Homo sapiens: one gene and its partners. The protein of the gene in region 5 interacts with the protein of the main gene of each other region in a pairwise test. Each region holds a gene or a part of one and is shown on either strand. Other genes may lie near its edges. The genes, in order: PCSK7, SPIRE1, BOK, THEM4, PECAM1, SERBP1 and WT1.

What was found.
Region 1: the proteins of PECAM1 (region 5) and PCSK7 interact in binary tests that used the Homo sapiens proteins (3 or more experiments, as listed by UniProt).
Region 2: the proteins of PECAM1 (region 5) and SPIRE1 interact in binary tests that used the Homo sapiens proteins (3 or more experiments, as listed by UniProt).
Region 3: the proteins of PECAM1 (region 5) and BOK interact in binary tests that used the Homo sapiens proteins (3 or more experiments, as listed by UniProt).
Region 4: the proteins of PECAM1 (region 5) and THEM4 interact in binary tests that used the Homo sapiens proteins (3 or more experiments, as listed by UniProt).
Region 6: the proteins of PECAM1 (region 5) and SERBP1 interact in binary tests that used the Homo sapiens proteins (3 or more experiments, as listed by UniProt).
Region 7: the proteins of PECAM1 (region 5) and WT1 interact in binary tests that used the Homo sapiens proteins (3 or more experiments, as listed by UniProt).

What each region holds. Positions count from the first base shown.
Region 1 is NC_000011.10:117,215,070-117,218,573, forward strand, and holds part of PCSK7 (proprotein convertase subtilisin/kexin type 7 preproprotein), read right to left. Parts: intron 3,500-3,504; coding exon 3,397-3,499; intron 2,176-3,396; exon of another isoform or gene 2,077-2,175; intron 1-2,076. UniProt on the Homo sapiens protein: Serine endoprotease that processes various proproteins by cleavage at paired basic amino acids, recognizing the RXXX[KR]R consensus motif. Likely functions in the constitutive secretory pathway.
Region 2 is NC_000018.10:12,446,010-12,449,061, forward strand, and holds the end of SPIRE1 (protein spire homolog 1), read right to left. Parts: 3' UTR 503-3,052; downstream 1-502.
Region 3 is NC_000002.12:241,571,685-241,574,632, reverse strand, and holds the end of BOK (bcl-2-related ovarian killer protein), read right to left. Parts: intron 2,337-2,948; coding exon 2,211-2,336; 3' UTR 502-2,210; downstream 1-501.
Region 4 is NC_000001.11:151,899,512-151,903,015, forward strand, and holds part of THEM4 (acyl-coenzyme A thioesterase THEM4), read right to left. Parts: intron 1-3,504. UniProt on the Homo sapiens protein: Has acyl-CoA thioesterase activity towards medium and long-chain (C14 to C18) fatty acyl-CoA substrates, and probably plays a role in mitochondrial fatty acid metabolism. Plays a role in the apoptotic process, possibly via its regulation of AKT1 activity.
Region 5 is NC_000017.11:64,384,361-64,387,864, forward strand, and holds part of PECAM1 (platelet endothelial cell adhesion molecule precursor), read right to left. Parts: intron 1-3,504. UniProt on the Homo sapiens protein: Cell adhesion molecule which is required for leukocyte transendothelial migration (TEM) under most inflammatory conditions.
Region 6 is NC_000001.11:67,407,306-67,410,356, forward strand, and holds the end of SERBP1 (SERPINE1 mRNA-binding protein 1), read right to left. Parts: 3' UTR 505-3,051; downstream 1-504. UniProt on the Homo sapiens protein: Ribosome-binding protein that promotes ribosome hibernation, a process during which ribosomes are stabilized in an inactive state and preserved from proteasomal degradation.
Region 7 is NC_000011.10:32,411,540-32,415,043, forward strand, and holds part of WT1 (Wilms tumor protein), read right to left. Parts: intron 1-3,504. UniProt on the Homo sapiens protein: Transcription factor that plays an important role in cellular development and cell survival. Recognizes and binds to the DNA sequence 5'-GCG(T/G)GGGCG-3'. Regulates the expression of numerous target genes, including EPO.

The DNA of each region.
Region 1 (3,504 bases), on a different chromosome or scaffold from region 5:
GGGAGAGAGAAAAATCAGTCTTGCTCTTTAGCAGCACTTCTCAATATGGTAGCCCTTAGCCACACATGGCTATCTAAATTAAAATGAAGTATAACAAAATTAAAATTTAGCTCCTTAGTCATACTAGCCTTATTATTATTATTTGAGATGGAGTCTTGCTCTGTCATCCAGGCTGGAGTGCAATGGCACAATCTTGGCTCACTGCAACTTCTGCCTCCCAGGTTCAAGCAATTTCCCTGCCTCAACCTCTTGAATAGCTGGGACTACAGGCACGTGCCACCATGCCTGGCTAATTTGTGTGTGTGTGTGTGTATATATATATATATATATATATATACTTTTTTTTTTTGAGATGGAGTCTCGCTCTGTTGTCTAGGCTGGAGTGCAGTGGCACGATCTTGGCTCACTGCAAGCTCCGCCTCCCTGGTTCACGCCATTCTCCTGCCTCAGCCTCCCGAGTAGCTGGGACTACAGGCACCCACCACCACGCCTGGCTAATTTTTTTGTATTTGTAGTAGAGATGGGGTTTCACCGTGTTAGCCAGGATGGTCTCGATCTCCTGACCTTGTGATCCACCCGCCTCAGCCTCCCAAAGTGCTGGGATTACAGGCGTGAGCCACCGTGCCCAGCCAATTTTTGTATCGTTTTTTTTTTTTTTTTTAGTAGAGTCGAGGTTTCACTCTGTTGGCCAGGCTGGTCTTGAACTCCTGACCTCAAGTGATCCGCCCCTGCCCTTGGCCTCCCAAAGTGCTGGGATTATAGGCTAGGTATGAGCTACCACGCCTAGCCTATTATTATTTTTGAGACAAGGTCTCGCTCTGTCACCCAGGATGGAGAGTGCAGTAGTGCAACCATGGCTTACTGCAGCCTTGGCATCCTGGGCTCAAGGAATCCTCCTGTCTCAGCCTCCCAGGAGGCATGCACCACCACACCTGGCTAATTTTATTTTTTGTAGAAATAGGGTCTCACTATGTTGTTCAGGCTGGTCTTGAACTCATGAGCGTAAACAATGCTCCTGCCTCAGCTTCCCAAAGGGATTACAGGTGTGAGCCACCATGCCCGGCCAACTGGTCATGTTTTAAATGTTCAATAGACTCAGATGACTAGTGACCACTGAACTGAGCAGCATGGACATGGAACAGTTCCATCATTGCAGAAAATTCTTTGGGACAATGCTACTCTAGAGTCTTAGAGGTATTTAGCCTCCTCTTCTATCTCAGGGATGTTCAGCTCCCTCTGCTTTATAAAAAGTTCACTTTCCAGCCCCCAGACACTGAATCAACCAGGTCCTGGTGGAAAACAACCATAACTTGGCTGTAGAAGGGGTTTCTTGACTTCCTGGGACTGAGCTGCTCAACTCTCAATTTTTTTTTTTTTTTTTTTTTTTGAGATGGAGTTTCCCTCTTCTTGCCCAGGCTGGAGTGCAATGGTGCGATCTCAGCTCACTGCAACCTCTGCCTCCCGGGTTCTCCTGCCTCAGCCTCCCAAGTAGCTGGGACTACAGGCATGAGCCACCACACCCAGCTAATTTTGTATTTTTAGTGGAGATGGGGTATCACCATGTTGGTCAGGTTGGTCTCAAACTCCTGACCTCAGGTTATCTGCCTCCCAAAGTTCCCAAAGTGCTGGGATTACAGGCATGAGCCAGGGCACCTGGCTCAACTCTCATTTTAACTGGACTTATTTCTTTCAACCTCCAAGCAAGCCCACAAACTTATTTGTTCTGTTTTTGTCTGCTCAGAGGAAAATGTGGTCATGTTGGAGGAGAAGGCAACTTCACTGGCTCTGAAAAGCCAATGAAAATAGTACTTTGCAAAAAGTTGTGAATAACTCTGCATGTCAAAATTACTCAAGGCAAAAAAACAAAAACAAAAATGAAACAAAACAAAAAATCCCCCAAGGAGCTGGGGGTAGGGAAAACTCTGGTAAAACTTTTGCTTGCTGCCCTTCCAACAGGTAAAGGGCTCCATTAGCCAAACTCCCTAAATCTTTCCCTCCCTTCTCTTAATCCTGCTTTCTCCACTAGGCCACCTCCCACTCTTCTCCACCCAGGCAATCTGTCCTTCTTTCTCTTACTTTTTAGTGACAAGCAAGCAGTTGCCAGATGCCTCAATGCCTAGGGTAGACATTCCGTGGCAACGTCCCCTGGTCAGCAGGAAGCAGAGGATGACGAAGCTGGGAAGACCATATTACTCTTTTAAGTCACTGCCCTCATTTGACAGATGCAACAGGAAATAGCCCTGGATAGAAGGTAAAGTTGAAGGCACACTATCTCTAAGACACGCAAGTGCAAAGCCAGGGGCTTCCAAATGAACTGCATTCCTGGAAATGTTTCTGAACTTCTCTGACTTGGCTGACGCTTTATGCCCTTTCCAAGATAACATTCCTTTTATGGGAAATGCAGTGACTGGCCCAGGGGTTTCATTCCACATTGAGGGAAATTGGGCAAGTGCTGGATGTGGTTAGGAGGAGAAAACTCAATTCTTCTCTGTGAAACCTTCACCTGAGGGAAGCCACCCCTCATCCTCCCTTCTGAGTAACCTTCTCTGGCCATTCCTTCTCCTGCCATGGCTCTCAATTGATCACTTTCTAGGAGGACAGAAAAAGTGAAGACAGTTTTGGTTTGGGCACTAAGCATAGCATACTTCCTTTGCAAAAAGTAGTAAATGACTCCAGGAAAAAGAATCCCCCAAGGAGCTGGGGGTAGGGAAAACGCTGGTAAATGTGCAGACAGGGCATCCTCTGCACAAGCATCCTGATCCAGCTGCACTCTCCTCTAGGGAGGGCGTCCGCCTCTTCGCTCAACATAAAACCAGGTCGCTGGCTTAGAGGATACAACCCCTTCAGACAATCCTGGTTCATGCTGGCCACCATGGAGGCGGAGGCAGAGGATGGGTCACTAAAGCCTAGGAGACTTCTACAAACCCTCTGTCCATCCCCAGCAGACCACATCTGACTCTCTCTATTAGGTAAGCCAGAGAATCAAAGGAAGAAATGCCTAACTCCTTTACTTCATCCAGACACCCGAGGACTGACCAGAGTTCTCTGGCAAGATCTTAGCATGGAAGTCACAGGAGCTTCTCTGAGCTCTCACCCCGGTCTCGCCTGACCTCCCCAAGCCCCAGTCCCATGCCTCCCACCCGCCCTCCTCCTCAGTTGCTCTGCTGCTCCTTTTCACTACTAGGAACCCAGGAGAAAGGTCTTGTTTAAGCAGCTGGGGGAGCCAACTCAGAAGCAGTAACATGTCCTAAAATGGTCAAAGAAAACTCCACAGGTTTGGCTGGAGCTCAGCTCCGAAAGGGGGTAGAATCTGGCAGGGAGGACGAGTTTAACTTCCTTGTCACCCGGCCCCAAACCTCAGGCCTAAGATTAACCCCCTTTGTGCTGATTACTTACCATTCCACAGGACCTCCAGGGAACGGGGGGACTGCGGAATCGCCTTGTTTTCTTTTAACACGGGACTGACGTAGGATGCTAAGTAAGGGACAGATGTCCAGATCTATG
Region 2 (3,052 bases), on a different chromosome or scaffold from region 5:
TTTTTTTTTTTTTTTGAGGCGGAGTCTTGCTCTGTCACCCAGGCTGGAGTACAGTGGCACAATCTCAGCTCACTGCAATCTCCACCTGCCGGGTTCAAGCGATTCTTGTGCCTTGCCTCCCCAGTAGCTGGGATTACAGGAGCACACCACCACGCCTGGCTAATTTCTGTATTTTTAGTAGAGATGGGGTTTCACTATGTTGGCCACCATGTACAAAAATACAAAAATTAGCTGGGCATGGTGGCGGGCACTTGTAATCCCAGGTACTTGGGAGGCTGAGGCACGAGAATCGCTTGAACTCCTGACCTCAGGTGATCCGTCTGCCTCAGCCTCCCAAAGTGCTGGGATTACAGGCGTGAACCACCATGCCCGGCCTAGACTGTATTTCTTCAAAGATCACAGGCTGCTTATAAAAGTACCCTGCCTTCCCAATTGAGGTGATTTCTGACAGCTAATTACCAAAAGACATCACCGTCTTACGATAGCAACTCAACACAGAAAGTCTGATGGAAAGCCATTTTATTTTTCTCTAAATTTTAAAATAGAAGACTTTAATGGAAAACATTTAGTACCATCATGTCACCCTGAATGCCAGCAATACCTCGACTTTTACACACGCAGGAAGCCTAGTAAAAGCCCCGTCAGTAGTACACATTTCTCTATGGTCCTTCAACAGTTTTGCATATACAAAATTTTCTGCTATTTTGCTTTAGCAAACAGCAATAAACTTTTGTGTTTCCTATATGACACCTAATATCCAGTCCTACAGTAATATAGTTAGAAAAATAAAAGGCTTAAAAATTTCATAGTACGAGTTCATGGTGCTAATAACAGAATCTCTTTAAACATAAGATCATTTTAAGCCTCTTACATAACCACCTTCTGGTTTCATTTGAAATCCTTAAGAATTAAAATCTAGTAAGATTGTTAAATCAACGTACGTCAATCATTCATTTTCACTTGCCTTGGGAGAGTTAATTCCCACTGTCCACTGAATGAATGCCTTTCAAATATTAATAAATATATTACAGTATTTACAAGCATTCTTATACACTCCGACACTGACAGGGAGTTAAGCCATGGAGAGGGAAGCACAGGTTTCCCAATAGTGTGACTTCATGACGTATGGGACAAAAGGAACCGGTGCTCAGGCCTGGAGGGAGCTGAGATGAGAGCAGGGATGATGGTTCAGATACGCACACATGCTCTAAGACACATCAGACTCTAGCTGAGACCAGCCAGACATTTCTTTTGTTGTTGGATTAGAAGTAAAACTGAACAAGAAACCAGGACACGGAAGGAAGAACTGGAAGCTATGCCTAAAGTCAGACCAGGCTAAGGATTTTAAAACCAAGCTCCACAAGCTCTTAGTGAATTACCCTGTGGAAACTATGTAGCTGACGTGAAGTGTGGAGGGGGGTGGTAGAAAGGGGGGTTAAATGTAAGACTTTGTTTTGGCAACAAAAAATGATAGTAATTTGATTTCTACAACTTTAACTGTGCCATGTGCCCTTTCTTACCCCACTTTCTGCAGATTGTTTCATATGAACGTACCCTCCACGTGACCTCTTTAATGCACTTGGCAAACTCCGTTAATGCTGTTGAAGAATGTATGTTCTGTGCTGTGGTAAGAGGTGATCGTAATGCCCAAATCATCCAATACACTATCATAAAGTGAAGTGAAAGACATGTACTAGATGTTTGCTTTGTGAATGTGAATGAAAGTCTTATTTTGGGGGTGTAGTTTCTTATGTTTTAATAAAAACAGTAGTCATTATTTTAAAAAGCACATTCTCCTAGGTGCATATTTATATACATATACAAATACCATTTCCTTCCCCCTTGTGCCCTTCTGGGTAGTCATTTTAAAAACTCAAGCCTGGGGTCATCAAAAGGGGTAGATTTATACTCCCACCTAACTGTCTGGAGTATAGAGTTCAGATAGTCTCTTAGGAAGTTTTATAAATGAGATTCACCCAGTACAATTCTGAAAGCTCTTAAACAGGAGTCTTTAAAATAATGTAAACACTTAAGTAATCAATAAGGGTTCTCTGGTGGCCCACTTTTACATGCAAATACAGACCAACTGTTAACATGCATTATTTTAGTCAACTGGTAAAGTTTATTTCATAAGTATAAGTAATTTTAAGCCTTTTACTAAACTGTAAATTTCAATCCATTAAAAACTACTACCGGAGCAGTTTTGAGGTATTACTGTTAATTTAGTATAGAAATGTTACTGTATTTTGATGTGGTATGAAATGCAGCCGCCATGCCTTTCATGAAACGGTGCTATCGTGGTGCTGACTACAGACATGTCCTATGGCTTTCAGGAAATTATTGTGCATGTGCATTAACAGATTTTCCAAACATTAATGACAATTTGATTGGTTAGTCATTTGTAAGCATACCAAAATAATACAGTATAGCCCACGTATGAGCCAAACACACTGAGACATTTGAGGCATACAATGCTACCCTCCAGTCTACTTTCGTCAGAAACCAAACCTACTCACTCAAATCATTTACAAGGAAAACTAGTGCAGAAAGCACCCCAAAAATGTTGCCTGTCAGCAGGTTAATTTTCTTCTAACTTTAAAAGAAGTAGATATTTTTTCTTTTAAAATTCATTTATAAAAATAAATTTTAGTTTGAGACCCTAGGTACCAAATTGTGGCTTAATTTACTCAAGATGGATGTACTACAAAGTTATGAAAAATGTAGCTGAAAACCCATGAGCTCCAGCTCATTTCTGCAGCGTGGCCAACAGCTGCCACTGTACACTGTCACAACCCTTCTCATAGGTAACCAAAATACGCTCAACGTCTTGACAAACTTTTAGCCTTCCTTTGTCCTGAAACTCCCACACAACTTTAATTCTTAGACCTCCATTATAAAACTATTAGTAACCATAATACATTCAAGATAGAGAATGAAGACCTGTCATCCACTCAGGAGACACTGAACCAGGGCACTGGGACAACACGGCCACTCAGGGGAAATAGTCACCCTTGTGGGTGTACAGCTCTTCAGATGTTTTGCACTAGAATGC
Region 3 (2,948 bases), on a different chromosome or scaffold from region 5:
CTCAGCCTCCAGAGTAGCTGGAACCACAGGTGCAGGCCACCGTGCTTGACTAATTTTATTTTTTAGAGATGGGATCTTGTTATGTTGCCTAGGCTGGTCTTGAACTCCTGGCCTCAAGCCATCCTCCTGCCTCCCAAAGTGCTGGGATGACAGGTGTGAGCTACTGGTCCTGGCCCATTATACTCTAGTTTGATGAAAGTGTTCAAAAGCCACCGAGAACCCTGCCTTCTGCAAGTATTTAATTAGGAGCACCCAGTGGTGATACTATGCATACCTCTATTGCCACATCACACTATGGACTATCGGTGTTCTTTTTACTACTGGAAATCAGCATTAGTGCCTTTACATCTAATCAGGATAAAGACCCAATTCCAGGAACCCTCCCATCCCCACCCTCTCGCCACTCCCCACCCTCAATTATTTTCAAGCAAACCCTCCGCACCTCTTACCATGTTGTGTATAGGTAGAAGCTATTTAACACACACACAGTGACATTCTGTCTAAAATGACAACGATCGTTTGGAGAAGTTTATTACCACCCCTACCCTCCAGTGGGATCTCAATGTCACGATGAGTCCGGGGCTGGCTTTCCGCCGGGACCCTCCTGTCCTGGCACATGGCCCACCCCAGCACGAAGCCTGGCCGGGAGGGCTCAGGTGGGTGGCTGCTAGGCCAGGCCTCCCCAGAACGACTGCCCCATGTCCAGCCTGTATCTCCTGAGTGCCATGCTGCACTGGGGAGGGACAGGGCTGGCTCGGGGCTCCAGGAAAGATGCCTCACATGTGCCTAGAAATGTAGGCGTCAAGGGAAGGCTGTGTGTGGGGGCACCTGAGGGGCTGGGCTTCCCAGGCATCTGAGTTCTTACGGAGCCCTAATAGGCACATCCCCAAATGGTTGTATGAGGATGAGCACAAAAATAGCAGATGGGGTCACCCTCACCCTCCACTGACAATGGACTGGGATCCGACTCATGCAACATTCCTTCTCGGCCGTAGGTTCCACATCCATGGGTTAGGTGTGCTGGCCTGGAGCCCGCCGGCCCCGGTCCCCACCGCACAAGGACCCCATCACAAGTGGGTGTCATACTCTTCCTCCAGAAACGGATTAAGCAACCAGCATGTGAACCTTACGCTCTGTTTACAGGCTGAGTCCCCACAGCTCTTCCAGCTTCAGCCAGGCCAGGGTCACCTTCAGATTGAATGTGCAGGGCCCCTGAGGACTCATGTCCTGAGATGGCCCTTCTTCCTGGGATGGGACCCCCGGGTTCAGGTGAGAGGTGTTCCCGGGCCCCTTCACCTGGGGCTCAGGTGACAGGAGGTGTTCCGGGCCCCTTCACCTGGGGCTCAGGTGAGAGGAGGTGTTCCGGGCCCCTTCACCTGGGGCTCAGGTGAGAGCAAGTGTTCCGGGCCCCTTCACCGGGGGCTCAGGTGAGAGCAGGTGTTCCGGGCCCCTTCACCTGGGGCTCAGGTGAGAGCAAGTGTTCCGGGCCCCTTCACCAGGGGCTCAGGTGAGAGCAGGTGTTCCCGGGCCCCTTCACCTGGGGCTCAGGTGAGAGCAGGTGTTCCGGGCCCCTTCACCTGGGGCTCAGGTGAGAGCAGGTGTTCTGGGCCCCTTCACCTGGGGTTCAGGTGAGAGCAGGTGTTCCCGGGCCCCTTCACCTGGGGCTCAGGTGAGAGCAGGTGTTCCCGGGCCCCTTCACCTGGGGCTCAGGTGAGAGCAGGTGTTCCGGGCCCCTTCACCTGGGGCTCAGGTGAGAGCAGGTGTTCCGGGCCCCTTCACCTGGGGTTCAGGTGAGAGCAGGTGTTCCCGGGCCCCTTCACCTGGGGCTCAGGTGAGAGCAGGTGTTCCCGGGCCCCTTCACCTGGGGCTCAGGTGAGAGCAGGTGTTCTGGGCCCCTGCATCTGAGGCCTGGGAGTTGACCCTGACTTCCTGGCCCCAGAAAGAAAAGGGAAAACACAGAGATCACAGGAGAAGGGACACAAGCGGGGAGGGTCGCAGGCTGCCCCAAAGCCCAGCTCCAGGCTCAGGAAAGCCCCTCCCCACTCACCCCTTCCGGAGGGCCTGGGTCTGCGGAGGAACGGGGCTTAGGGGGTCTCCGAGGGTTAGAGTGCTCCAGGCTCGGGTGGGGAGGAGGAAGATGTGTTCGGGTGCTGAGGGCCTCCTGCGTTGGGCCCAGAGGGCCAGGCTGCGGCCACTGCCAGGTGGGCAGCTCATCTCTCTGGCAGCAGCACGAAGAAGGCAGCCTTCAGGAAGCGGCCGAAGCTGCAGAGTGCAGCCACCAGCCAGTGGGAGCGGAGGCCAGGGTCTGTGCTGACCACACACTTGAGGACATCAGTCTGGGAGGGAAGAGGGAGACCGTTAGAAAGCAGAGCCAGCACCGCCAGGCCCCCAGCACCGCCAGGCCCCCCAGCACCGTGCACCAGAATATCAGCAAAATTGCATGAAGGGAATGCAGGAGACTGTTCGGGAAGGAGGTCTGTGGCCTGGACTGAAGGCTCCAACACAAGACCAGACCCGATGCCGTGCACATTCAGACAGTGTGAAGGGCCAGGAGGCACGGGAGGTGGGGACAGATGGCAGCCAGGCAGGCCGGCCGGAGGGCCCCTGCCGAGCAGGAGAGAGGCCTTCATGGCCCTCGCTGGGGCTCCAGACATCCAGACCAGGGTGCCAGCTCCCCTCGGCCACCTGCCTGCTGCCCCCCAGGGGCTACAGGTATGCCGCCGTCATCCTCCTGTGGGGCCTTGGAGCCTGGGCTACCAGGAAGGGGCAAACCCAGCTTCATTCAGACTCTGCCTGGAACAACAGCAGGGACTGCGTTTCCGGAAGCCCACGGACTCCCTGGACTCTGAAGTTCCTTCTGGGGAAGTGAATGAACGTCCAATTCTCTTATTCCCTTCACTTCCTGCTAATACATGAAGGCTTTTCCCTGCAGCCTGGACCTGTGGCCT
Region 4 (3,504 bases), on a different chromosome or scaffold from region 5:
TTCAAGGAAATAGCTTAAAGAAAAAACAATAAAAAATTCAGGAAATTTTGGACACACTTTTAGAAATGCAAATTAACCTAATCCAACAAAGAGAAAGAAAAAGAACAAGAAAATATGAACAAAGCCTCCAAGAAGTCTGGGATTTTGTTAAACTACCAAACCTAAGAATAATTGGTCTTCCTGAGGAAGAGGACAATTCTAAAAGCTTGGAAAACATATTTGGGGGAATAATCGAGGAAAACTTCCCTGGTCTTGCTAGAGATCTAGACATGCAAATACAAGAAGCACAAAGAGCACCTGGGAAATTCATCACAAAAAGATCTGCACCCAGACACATTGTCATCAGGTTATCCAAAGCTAAGACAAAGGAAAGAATCTTAAGAGCTGTGAGAAAGAAGCACCAGGCAACCTATAAAGGAAAATCTATCAGCTTAACAGCAGATTTCTCAGCAGAAACCCTACAAGCCAGAAGGGATTGGGGCCCTATCTTCAGCCTCCTCAAACAAAACAATTATCAGCCAAGAATTCTGTATCCAGTGAAACTAAGTATCATATATGAACGAAAGATACAGTCCTTTTCAGACAAACAAATACTGAGAGAATTCGCCATTATCAAGCCACCATTACAAGAACTGCTAAAAGGAGCTCTAAATCTTGAAACAAATCCCAGAAACCCATCAAAACAGAACCTCTTTAAAGCATAAATCACACAGGACCTATAAAACAAAAATACAAGTTAAAAAGCAAAAACAAAAAATAAAAAAAACCCCACAGTACACAGGCAACAAAGAGTACAATGAACACAATGGCACCTCACATTTCAATAATAACATTGAATGTAAATGGCCTAAGTGCTCCACTTAAAAGACACAGAACCGCAGAATGGATAAGAACTCACAAACCAACTATATGCTGTCTTCAAGAGACTCACCTAGCACATAAGGACTCAAATAAACTTAAAGGGTGGAAAAAGGCATTTCATGCAAATGGACACCAAAAGCAAGCAGAGATAGGTAGCTATTCTTACATCAGACAAAACAAACTTTAAAGCAACAGCAGTCAAAAAAGACAAAGAGGGACATTATACAATGGTAAAAGGCCTTGTCCAAAAGGAAAATATCACAATCCTAAACATATATGCACCTAACACTGGAGCTCCCAAATTTATAAAACAATTACTAACAGACCTAAGAAATGAGATAGACAGCAACAAAATAATAGTGGGGGACTTCAATACTCCACTGACAGCTGCTGGGGATAGGCCCCCAAATCTGGCCATAAACTGGCCCCAAAACTGGCCATAAACAAAATCTCTGCAGCACTGTGACATATTCGTGATGGCCATGATGCCCATGCTGAAGGTTGTGGGTTTACCGGAATAAGGGCAAGGAACACCTGGCCCAACCAGGGCAGAAAACCGCTTAAAGGTGTTCCTAAGCCACAAACAATAGCATGAGCAATCTGTGCCTTAAGGACATGTTCCTGCTGCAGATAACTAGCCAGAGCCCATCCCTTTGTTTTGGCCCATCCCTTTGTTTCCCCTAAGGAATACTTTTAGTAAATCTATAATCTATAGAAACAATGTTTATCACTGGCTTGCTGTCAATAAATATGTGGGTAAATCTCTGTTAGGGGCTCTCAGCTCTGAAGGCTGTGAGACCCCTGATTTCCCACTCTACACCCTATATTTCTGTGTGTCTTTAATTTCTCTAGCACTGCTGGGTTAGGGTCTCCATAACTGAGCTGGTCTTGGCAGATAGCACTAGACAAGTCATCAAGACAGAAAGTCAACAAATAAACAATGGATTTAAACTATACCTTGGAACAAATGGACTTAACAGATACATACAGAACATTTCATCCAACAACCACAGAATACACATTCTATTCAACAGTGCATGGAACTTTCTCCAAGATAGATCATGATAGGCCATAAACAAGCCTCCATAAATTTAAGAAAATTGAAATTATATCAAGCACTCTCTCAGACCATAGTGGAATAAAACTGGAAATCAACTCCAAAAAGGAACCTTCAAAACCATGCAAATAGGCCAGGCGCTGTGGCTCATGCCTGTAATCCCAGCACTTTGGGAGGCTGAGGCGGGAGGATCACCTGAAGTCAGGAGTTCGAGATCAGCCTGACTAACACGGCAAAACCCAGTCTCTACTAAAAATACAAAAATCAGCCAGGAGTGGTGGCATGCGCCTGTAATCCCAGCTACTCAGGAGACCGAGGCAGGAGAACTGCCTGAACCCAGGAGGCAGAGGTTGCAGTGAGCTGAGATTGTGCCACTGCACTCCAGCCTGGGCAACAAGAGCGAAACTCTGTCTCAGAAAAAAACAAACAAAAAAAAAAAACAAAAAAACCATGCTCCTGAATGAGCACTGGGTCAAAAATGAAATCAAGATGGAAATTTAAAAAATTCTTCAGATTGAATGACAATAATGACACAGCCTATCAAAACCTCTGGGATACAGCTAAGGCAGTGCTAAGAGGAAAGTTCATAGCCCTAAATGCCTACCTCAAAAAGTCTGAAAGAGCACAAACAGACAAAACCACAATGCGATACCACCTTACTCCTGCAAGAATTGCCATAATAAAAAAACTCAAAAAACAGTAGATGTTGCTGTGGATGCAGTGATCAAGGAACATTTCTACACTGCTGGTGGGAATGTAAACTAGTATAGCTGCTATGGAAAACAGTGTGGAAAAGAAGTCATTATTCGAAAAAGATACTTGCACATGCATGTTTATAGCAGCATCATCCCCAATTGCAAATCATGGAACCAACCCAAATGCCCAACACAAAATCGTGGAACCAACCCAAATTCCCAGTGACCTGGATGAGACTGGAGACTATTATTCTAAGTGAAGTAACTCAGGAATGGAAAACCAAACATTGTATGTTCTCAATTATATGGGAGAGCTAAGCTATGAGGACGCAAAGGCATAAGAATGATACAATGGACTTTGGGGACTTGGGGGGAAGAATGGGAGGGGGATAAGGGATAAAAGACTATAAATATGGTGCAGTGTATAATGCTCAGGTGATGGGTGCACCAATATCTCACAAATCACTAGTGTAAAGAACTTACTCATGTAACCAAATACCACCTGTACCTGAATAACTTATGGAAAAATAAAATTAAAAAATAAAAATTAAACAAAACAGATCAAAACTAAACTCTATGGAAGCTGAGGCGTGGTGGCACACCTGCAGTCCCAGAACTTTGGGGGTGCCAAGGCGGGTGGATCACTTGAGGTCAGGAGTTTGAGACCAGCCTGGCCAACATGGTGAAACCCTATCTCTACAAAAAATACAAAAATTAGCCATGCGAGATGGTGTGTGCCTGTGGTCTCAGCTACTTGGGAGGCTGAGGAACAAGAGTTGCTTGAACCAGGGAGGTGGAGGTTGCAGTGAGCCAAGACTGCACCACTGCACTCCAGTCCGGGCAACAGAGTGAGATTCTGTCTCAAAAACAAACAAACAAAAAACTCTACAG
Region 5 (3,504 bases):
ACCTCCCTTGCTATAGAAGCCCTTCAAGATGCCCCCCCCAATGGTCCTTGCCCTCTGCTCATCACACTTACACGTGGTCACCTCCCACGTTAACATTAACCAACAAAATACTCCATCAGGTAATAAAAGACAATGCAGCTTTTATCCTGATCACTCTCTCTCCTGTCTGGGATCCCTCATTCTGGGGAATGCCAGCAGTCATAGCATAAGCAGCCCTGTGGAAGGTACCCAGGATGAGGAACTAAGGCCTCCAGCCCATAGCCACAGGAGTGAGCTTGGAAGCAGATTCCCCAGACTCAGTCAAGCCTTCAGATAACCGCAACCCTGACCAACAATTTATCTGCAATCTAATGAGACCCGGTGCCAGCACCACCCAACTCAGCCACTCCTGCATTCCTGACCCTCAGAAACTTCAGGATAATAAATCTGTGTTATCTTAAGCCAGTAAGTTTTAGGTAAATTGTTATGCAGCAATAGGTAACAAATATACCACGCAACCAAACTTCAAAAGTCTCTGCCTGATTCTTGTTTTGATAATATGGAAAACATTATCATCTTTCTAAATAAACCAGCCAAGCACAGCCAAACTGAATTACTGCCTGTAGGTCTCACTATTTACACAGAGTGACTGTTCACAACCTGGGGGACACAGCCCCTGGGAGGTGCATGGGTGGGTGTTAGGAGGCTCATCAACTACCTCCAATTGTGTGCAAATGTGTGCTTTTTCTGGAGAGAAGGCCCACAGATTTCCTTACTGAACCCAAAAAGTTTCAGGACTATTGTGATGAAGGGTGGGGCTGTGGGACAGCCTAAAGAGGTCAGATCTTTTCAACCCGGGGAGATGAAGGTTGACGGAGAAGGATCTAAATTTGGAAAGTCACCACGGAACAGCCAGTGACCACAGTGCCAAACCCCAACATGCTAAAAACAGTGGGACCTTGACCTCAAGGCCACTCATCAGTGGATGGTGGTGCTCCCTGGAAACATGCGGCACCATCAGTCAGCCAGCCCCCTGGCCCTCAACCTGGAAATGACTCAGAGAGAAAGTGGAGGGTGCAGGAGAAGGAGGGGCTGCCCACCCTCGTCAGGAAAATTACTGGGAGCCACGAAGCATAGAGTCCCTGATGAACTTCTGTGCTCATCAGAGAGCATGCTGAGCCATCTTCCTACCCGAATCTCAAGCATCTCCAAGTTCAGTTCAAGTTCCCATCCAATGAGACATGTGTCGAGAACCTGTGCCAGGTGCTGGGCTGACAGAGTAAGTAAGAAATCATCCTTGCTGTCCCAAACAGCAAAGGTTGCTGGGGCCCACATAGCTGGACTCCAGTGATATCAGTAAGCACCAAGAGGAAGGGCTGCCCAGGAGAGGTCAAGGAGTCTGAAGGAAGTGACCACTGAACTGAGCCTGCCAGGCCAAGGACAGGCAGTGGGGTACTCCAGGTAAGAGAACAGCGTGTCCCAGGACACGAGGGTGTGAGAAATCCGTGCCTTCTGGGCATGGCCCATTACAGAAACCAGAGTGTGGGGCTAGAGAGGCCAGGTGGCTGGGTCTGTCGTGCCAGAATGGAGGGCTGGCCTGCTGTGCTGACAAGCTGGGCCCTGTCCTGAGGGTGTCAGGAGGGGTGTGACAGCACCCAAGGCCAGTAAACAGCTTGGAAGTGGTTCAGGTGAAAGCTGATGAGGCCTGAGCTAGGCGGGTGCAGTGGGGATGAGGGAAGGATAGGCTGGGGATCTCCTGAGTGGACTCAACAGGACTTGTTTCTGGGGTGTTGAAAATGTTCTAGAATGAATCCCAGCACTTCGGGAGGCCAAGACAGGTGGATCACTTAAGGTCAGGAGTTTGAGAATAGCCTGGCCAACATGGCAAAACCTTGTCTCTACTAAAAATACAAAAATTAGCCGGGCATGGTGGTTCGTGCCTGTAATTGCAGCTACTCAGGAGGGTGAGGCAGGAGAATTGCTTGAATCTGGGAGGTGAAGGTTGCAGTGAGCTGAGATCCAACCACTGCACTCCAGCCTGGGCAACAAGAGTGAGACTCTGTCAAAAAAAAAAAAAAAAGAAAAAGAAAGAATATGTTCTAGAATTAGACAATGGTGATGGTTGCACAACACCGTGAATGTACTAAATGTCATTAATAATAAATGTTATATTATTTGTATTTTACCACAATTTAAAAAAAGACTTTGTTTGATTGGATATGGGGTTGAAAGAATGGAAGATAAACTTCCTGGATTAGATTCCCAGGAGGATGTGTGTGCCACCAAACTAAAATAGAAAATGCCACACGCAGCTGGGTGTGGTGGCTCATATCTGTTATCCCAGCACTTTCGGAGGCCGAGGCAGGAGGATGGCTTCAGCCCAGGAGTTTGAGACCAGCCTGGGCAACAAAATGAGACCCCAGTCTCTACAAAAACAAACAAACAAACAGAAAAAGATAAGGAAGGAAGACAAAGTGATGGTGGTGCAGCTGCGTGTGAGGGGCCAGTAGGAGGACTGGGAGGAGACATCAAAGGTCAGCCTGTGTTAACTGGAGGCTCAGGGCAGAGGCCAGGGCTGGACTGTGAAGGTGGGAGGAGTGTGAACTTAGGGGAGGAGGGGGGAATGTGGAGGTGTTGAGAGGGGAGCTGGTCTCCAGGGAGGATAAGACCAGGAGCCCGCAGAGACCAGGACAGGGTTCAGACTCCAGGAGAAGACAAAGTAAGTCCAAAGTCAGCCATGGGGGAGAAGGAAGAGGGTTTGTTAGAGAGTGAGGAGACAAAGCAGGGAAGAGGATGGAAAAGGTCAAGGAGCGAGGCTTTGGGGCACGATCAAAAGTCAAAGGCAGGAAAGGGGTACAGGGAGCCGAGGGCTGGAAGTGTCCGTTGCATTTGGCATCAGGTGGTCCTTGGTGACCCCTCAGCAAGAGGAGACCCAACAGCCGGAGAAGTGGGGCCTGAGGCCAGGCTGCTGGGAGGCGAGGCGTGTCTGAGAGGTGAGGTGGGTAGGCACAGATTATAAACTAACTTTCAGAGAGGTTCGACTGAGAAAGGAAACTAGAAAGGCCAGATAGGGGGACACCAGATAAACGGTGGGGGTGGGTGTCTGCTTGTGATTTTTCTTTTTCCTAAAAAAAGAGTTCCCATTCACTGAGAGAACAGAGCCAGAAGCAGAAATAGAGATTCTAGAAGTGGTGGTAGGGGAGAGGGACTTGAATGCACGTAGGCGTGGGGTCCTGGGGGTGAGGAAGGGTCTCAGCCTAAGTGCCTGGCTGGCCCCCATCAGCTGAGGAGCAGGGTGCATGTGTCCTCCGAGGCCGGGAGGGAAACCGAGAGGATGGGTGGAGAGGCTGATAAGCCTGCAGCCAGGCCCAGGCGGGAAGTTGAGGGAGTTCCCTCCAGATGACTGTTTTCTAGGTGAAGATGGAGCAGCCGTCACCTCCTGAGGTGAGGCAGCTGCAGTGAGGTGCGGGCTGGAGGGGAACAAAGAGGCCTGAGATGGAAGGAAGGGAAAGGGCCGAGGCTGTC
Region 6 (3,051 bases), on a different chromosome or scaffold from region 5:
TAGTGAATCCCCGTCTCTACTAAAAATACAAAAAATTAGCCGGGCGTGGTGGCGGGCGCCTATAATTCTAGCTACTCAGGAGGTTGAGTCAGGAGAATTACTTGAACCCGGGAGGCAGAGGTTGCAGTAAACCGAGATCGCGCCACTGCACTCCAGCCTGGGCAACAGAGTGAGACTCATCTCAAAAACAAACAAACAAAAAACACGAAATTATGAATTTTCAGGGTAAGTACACAAACCAATTGTCTTATCTCTAAACAAAGATATGTGTTTAGTTCACACCAATCATGAAGGCCTAAACATGTCGTCATGTAATGGGAAAAATACAAAACCCACCCACTTTCAGTCCATTTCTTTCCAAAAGAACCCCAGCTGTCGGAGCACTCTGAAAATGTCTAGAAAATGTCTAAACACATGCTTATCTTAGTACTCTGAGTGCAGCTGCCATATGAAGCAACATTTCTTTGTGGGTTACGTGTAAAACAAAGAATTCAATATACAAAGTTCCCAAAATAAAACAAAAATTTACTTGGACGTTATTCATTGGCTAATAGAACATTTTAGTCCCAATCCAACAAAATTTTAGGCAAATGTCAAGAACCAAGTTAACCAAAACCGCTTTAAACAGAATCTTCATTCTAGGTATATAAAAACTGTTTCTTTAAATTAGAGATCTTTTTGGTCCTAAAATCTAGAACTGAATCAGCTACAACTGCAAACAAGGTGATTAGTGCAAAGTAATACAACTGTCCAAAGATAAGCTACTTCCCACTTTCCCTACTCAGTAATACATAAAAATCCTTAATATTAGCCCTTCACTTTCCATGCTTCCACCCAGTAACACCTAAAGCAACTATTTAAGGATTAAGCCACACAAGGTCAGAGTAATTGAGCACCTAGTATGAACCAATTATCTAAATAGATTTCTAAAAGTCCATAATGAATCAGAACTCAGATACAAAGTTACCACCAGGCATCTTTTATATATACTTTCTTGCATATACAAGTCTCAAGAAGAGTAATGTCATACAAGAGCACTAGGAATTGCCACATACTCCCAAATGGGCAGCAAAAGGAACAAACATTACTGATTTAAAACAGTATATACATACTAACTCAAAAAAATAATTCGGTAAATCATTTTCTAACTTGTGTGGGTAACTTTTTCCCTTCCATTTAGAAGTGAACAATTGGCTACCAGTTTAGTACAGAAGTAATCAACAGCACAAAAGCTAAATTCTGTCCAAATGGGAATTCTAAGCTCAAAAAAAAAAAAAAAAAGATGCAATCTCCAGGAGCCATTAATTTCTGCCCCAGCTCAACCTATGGAATTTACCTATATGAAGTGTTCATAATTCTCATCTCATAGAAAAACCTCTTTGCACAACGCAAAGGACTTACACAAAGGGATCTGAGTCACTAAATGTGAAATACTAATCATGGTATTTTTTAACAGATTATACACCCCTTAACAGCTTTCAAAATATATTTTATGTTGCAGGCTACCTATCTAAAAAATAATAAAACATGTTTTACTAACAAGTTTTATCTTGCCCTTACTTTGATTATATAGAGGTGTAAAGTATGCTTTAAAATTACTTCTAATTTCACAGCTTCCTGTTGGGTAGACCACTTAATTTGTACCTAGAACTAAACTTTTATTTTTCAGACAGTGTGTCACCCAGACTGGAGTACAGTGCTATGATCTTGGCTCACTGCAACCCCCACCTCCCGGGTTCAAGTGATTCTTGGGTGTGGTGGTGTACACCTGTAAAATTAGCTGTCTGTGGTGGTGCACACCTGTAATCCCAGCTACTCAGGAGGCTGAGGCAGAATTGCTTGAACCCGGGAGGTGGAGGCTGCAGTGACCTGAGATCATGCCACTGCACTCCAGCCTGGGTGACAGAGCCAGACTGTTTCAAAGAAACAAACTCTTGTAACCCGAGAGTGACAGTTCCGGGGTCAGCAAACATTTCTGTGAAAGGCGGTATCTTATGCTGGGCTGCCTACATTTTTCTGTGGGTTTTTTTTTTTTTTAATCCTATACAAGCCTAAAAACCATTCTTAACTCAGGGACACGGACACACACACACACACACACACACACACACACACCCCCACACACACCAGGTCACAGGCTGAACTTTGCTGACCCCTGGCTTACATACAGCATCTCATTTAAATGGCGCTCATTTCCAGTGTTCATATTTTCATCTGTGGCCAAAATCATGATGGCTTTAGCAATTTATATTCTAACCATTTCCTAAACTTAAGCTTCTCATGTTTAGATTACAACCTTGTTTTCACTATATTCTTGAAATTACCGACTTCCTCAGCCTGAAAGATTTATTTCAATCACTTCACATAACCTCCAAATTTGAACTTAAAAGTCAAGGAAGATGAAGAGGTAATCCCAGGGCACAGCTTAGGCCAAATAACCCAAATTTCTGGGAAGCTGCCACTTACTATTAACTCAACCTGACAATTATCTTGCAAATGATATTGATAAATCATTTAATTACTATGGTCCAGTTCAAATATGTATCATTTTACTGCCTTGTTACCAGTTATGCCATACAAAGCACAGTAAATAATGAAGTTTCTGGGCTTTTCTTAGTTAACCTGAAGATCTCGCTGGTACATGTTCAGACTTGCTAAAACTTATTTACATATTTGTCTCAGTATAATCCAAAACGTCTGGGTTATAATCTATTTTCTAAGTGTTTACTTTAGAAAGTAAAATTGCATGCACCTGAGATCCCTGGAATTTGCTATACCATTGGACTGGAGGTCCACTAATATACCTGAATAATCTTACCTCTAAGGTCAACATCAGTTAGGTTCTAGTAACTTCCTATTTCTCATTCCTTTGAACCTTTTAACACCTGTTGTTTCCTTCCACATGATGGTACTTTCCTAAAGACATGTTAGGTTGGTACAAAACCAATTGCACCAACCTAGTATTTTCGAAATCCAATACACATTTAGGCTTTGTATGCAACTCCCTGTTCTATTTCAGTGCAACCATCTCTGGCAACTAGAAAAATAACA
Region 7 (3,504 bases), on a different chromosome or scaffold from region 5:
AGGCTTTTGGGGGGAGTTTTAATTTCCTTCTCTGCGTAGTTGTATTTTCTAACTGTTCTATAATTTATACACATTACTTACATAATAAAAAAATTCAATACATTCATCAAATGCATGTCCAAAAATAAAAGGATAGAAAAGGCCAACAGCCAGGGAGGAGAAAGAAGAAGCAGAAAAGTGAGAAGCAAAGGAAAGAAGCTTCCGAATCAGTCCACACTAAGTGAGAGGGACACAGAGCTAAGTCACGAGTCTCCATCTTTATCAAACCCTGGAGTCCCATTCTTCGTTCTGGTTGGCAGGGTTAACAGACCTCAGGCCAAGTCCAATGCAAGGCAATAATAAAGAAAAAAAACTCTTTAAATGGCATTAAATGAAACTTTAAACGGTGGAAAATTAATAACTTGTTGCTGGGGGTGGAGATGGAGTAGGCTCGGCAATGCTGATATTCACAGAACTGAGGCTCCCCACCTTCACTTTGCATCTCAGGCTCCGGGAGCCACTTAAAAGCAAGCTATCTATTTCCAAGAAGTAAATCTCTTGGACGGATACCTTATGTTCACGAGCCCGCGAGGGAAGGTGCTGGGCTGTGTATTGGAGCTCCCAGCCAGAGAAGACAGCTATCTCTTTTGGCACAGGTTCTCAGGGATGAGACCATGTCTAGCGGGGATTTTCTCCAGATTCGACAGCCTTGGCCCTACCAAAACGCACAGCTTTGTTTTCACCACACATCACTCATTGTTGAGTCTTTTTTGTTTTTCCTCTCAAGCATCCACAGGTTGAATACTGTGTGTTCCCAACAGCCTGTGAACTTCTTGGACCAGCAAAGGGACATTCATTTTGCTGAGCACTCCTTTCACATTTCTATTGTGTTCGATTTCCCACTCCCCCTACCCGAGTCCCCAGAGAATAACTTCTTCCTTGTTTTAATAACTTGGATCACAGTCAAGGTTGATGTGTTTCTCCATTTTGCAGGATATTTTCTTCAGAAGAGACAAAACAGAGGCCAACAGGGTAGGAGAGGCTTGTTCGGAAATCAGCAGCCATTGAGAACACACAGAAAATGTTTTCAAAGAAATAGAAAGCAGATAACACAAGGCACCATCAATAGAAGGCTTCAAAATGGTGGACTCATACTCAGAAAGATTCCCCAGCAACGTTTTCTCCCAGGGACCCACTTTAAAAATCTAATTTCATTTGTTTGGGGGTGAGGGAGAAGAAAGTACTTTCCGTAAAGTACCTTCTCACTGACTTAAATTGAAATACATTCTCCCATTGGAGGTCATAAAAGTAGCTGTGATCCCAGTGGGTATGCAGAAATTAGAAAATGAGTAAAGGGAGAAGGAGGAGAAAGGAGCGGTTCAGTCACACAAGTATATCCCACCTCTAACACAGCAAGTTTTCATTTCATCTGCCCATGTTCTTTATAAAATCCTATCCCCACCCATTGTAACACTGCTCCCTGACATCTAATGAAAGATGTCTCCGTGGACTTGCTTGGGATACAAGGAAACAAACCTATTCTTTGTGAAGCCACTTTTTTGAAACGAAACATTTTCAAGGAAAGAAGACCCGAACCAGCATTTAGTGGGGTTTAGTCTGAGGTGCATGATCTTTTAATAAAAAATTGATAATGCCTCTTTTTTATGAGTGATATGGAAATTACATCTTTCTTCTCTAAAACATGAACCAAATCACCAGTTTTTCCTGTAATAGATCAACCTTGTCACATGATTTTTCTTAACATTGATTTCAAACAGTGTCAAGACACTAGTTATGAATGAACACAAAAAGTTATGTGTCTGAATTTGTCTTCATGGAATACCTTTTCTCAAATGTATTCTCCATATTAATACTTTTCATACCATGGCAAAAGAAAGTAAATCCAGTATCACAAAGAACAATGACCCCAACCCAGATTGGTCTCCCCTGGGGAAAGGCCAAACTTTCTACTGGAATTACAGATTCAACTAAATCCAGTTCTGGGCTGTTCATGAGTTTGGAGGAGACAGCCAAGGTGTCACCATGTTTGAATGCTAAAAGTGAGGCAAACTGTGGGTCATGACACATCAGTGGGTTGTAAAATCAATCTAGTACATCACAATCAGCATTTTAAAAAATGAAATAGGATAGAGAGAAAAAGTCAGCATGCAGAGCATGTCATAAGAGTATTGCTCAGTGAAAATCTATGTTGTGTGTGTGTATGTGTGTGCACATGTGTGTATATGGGATCTCACTGTAAAGGGTATTTCTAACTGTGGTCACAGTCTAAAAGGTTTCCACCCATTTAAGAAGCTCTAATCTAGGGCCCAGGTCCTGGAGTCAGACAGAACTGATTCCAACATGGCTCTGCCACTCACTTACTATGTGACCTTGGTTAGATAGCTTAATCTCTCCACCTCCTCAGCTAAAAAATTGGATGTGGCCATAGTGTCCTGGGGGTGTTGTAAGATCAGATCAGAAGAGGAAACATGTACAGCCCCTCACACGGCACCCAATACTGTTTATATACATCCTTAGATAAATGTCCAGTTCACAAAATGGAAGCGGAAATTCGTGGATTTACAGTATGTTCTACAGTGTGAGAGAAGATGGTAGGCAATTAGCTAATTGTAATTTTTGCTCTGCAAAACAGTTGTTCTTTTGTGGAACTATCTGTTGGGCCATCTAGCCCTTTTTATAACAGCTCCCTGAATAAAGTTAATATTCGAGAAATATACATATATATTGTGTTTGTTTGTTTTGTTTTGTTTTGTGGAAGGGTCTCACTCTATCGCCCAGGCTGGAATGCAGTGGCCTGATCTTGGCTCACTGCAACCTCCGCCTCCCAAGCTCAAGCAATCCGCCCACCTCAGCATTCCAAGTAGCTGGGGTTACAGGCATGTGCCACCACGTCTGGCTAATTTTTTTGTATTTTTTGTAGAGAAAGGTTTTCACCACATTGTCCAAGCTGATCTCAAACTCCTGAGCTCAAGTGATCCACCCACCTCAGCCTCCCAAAGTGCTGGGATTATAGGCGTGAGCCACCATGCCAGGCCAAGAAATACATTTTTAGTCAGGGCGCAGCAGCTCATACCTGTAATCTCAGCACTTTGGGAGGCCAAGTGTGGCGGATCGCCTGAGGTCAGGTGTTCAAGACCAGCCTGGCCAACATGGCGAAAACCTGTCTCTACCAAAAATACAAAAATTAACCAGGTATGGTGGCAGATGCCTGTAATCCCAGCTACTCAGGAGGCTGAGGCAGGAGAATCACTTGAACCCAGGAGGCAGAGGTTCCAGTGAGCCAAGATCGTGCCACTGCACTCCAGCCTGGGTGACAGAGTGGGACTCCATATCAAAAAAAAAAAAAAAAAGAAATACATTTTTATTTCAGAAATCCTTTCTAAGATGTAAGTAACGGACCAATGAAAACTCTTCTCATTTTTTTCTTATGTAGGATTGAACAGAACAAATTGTTCACACTTTGTGCTTCATCCTTATAATACAGCTTCTGCCTCCTCAGCAAGT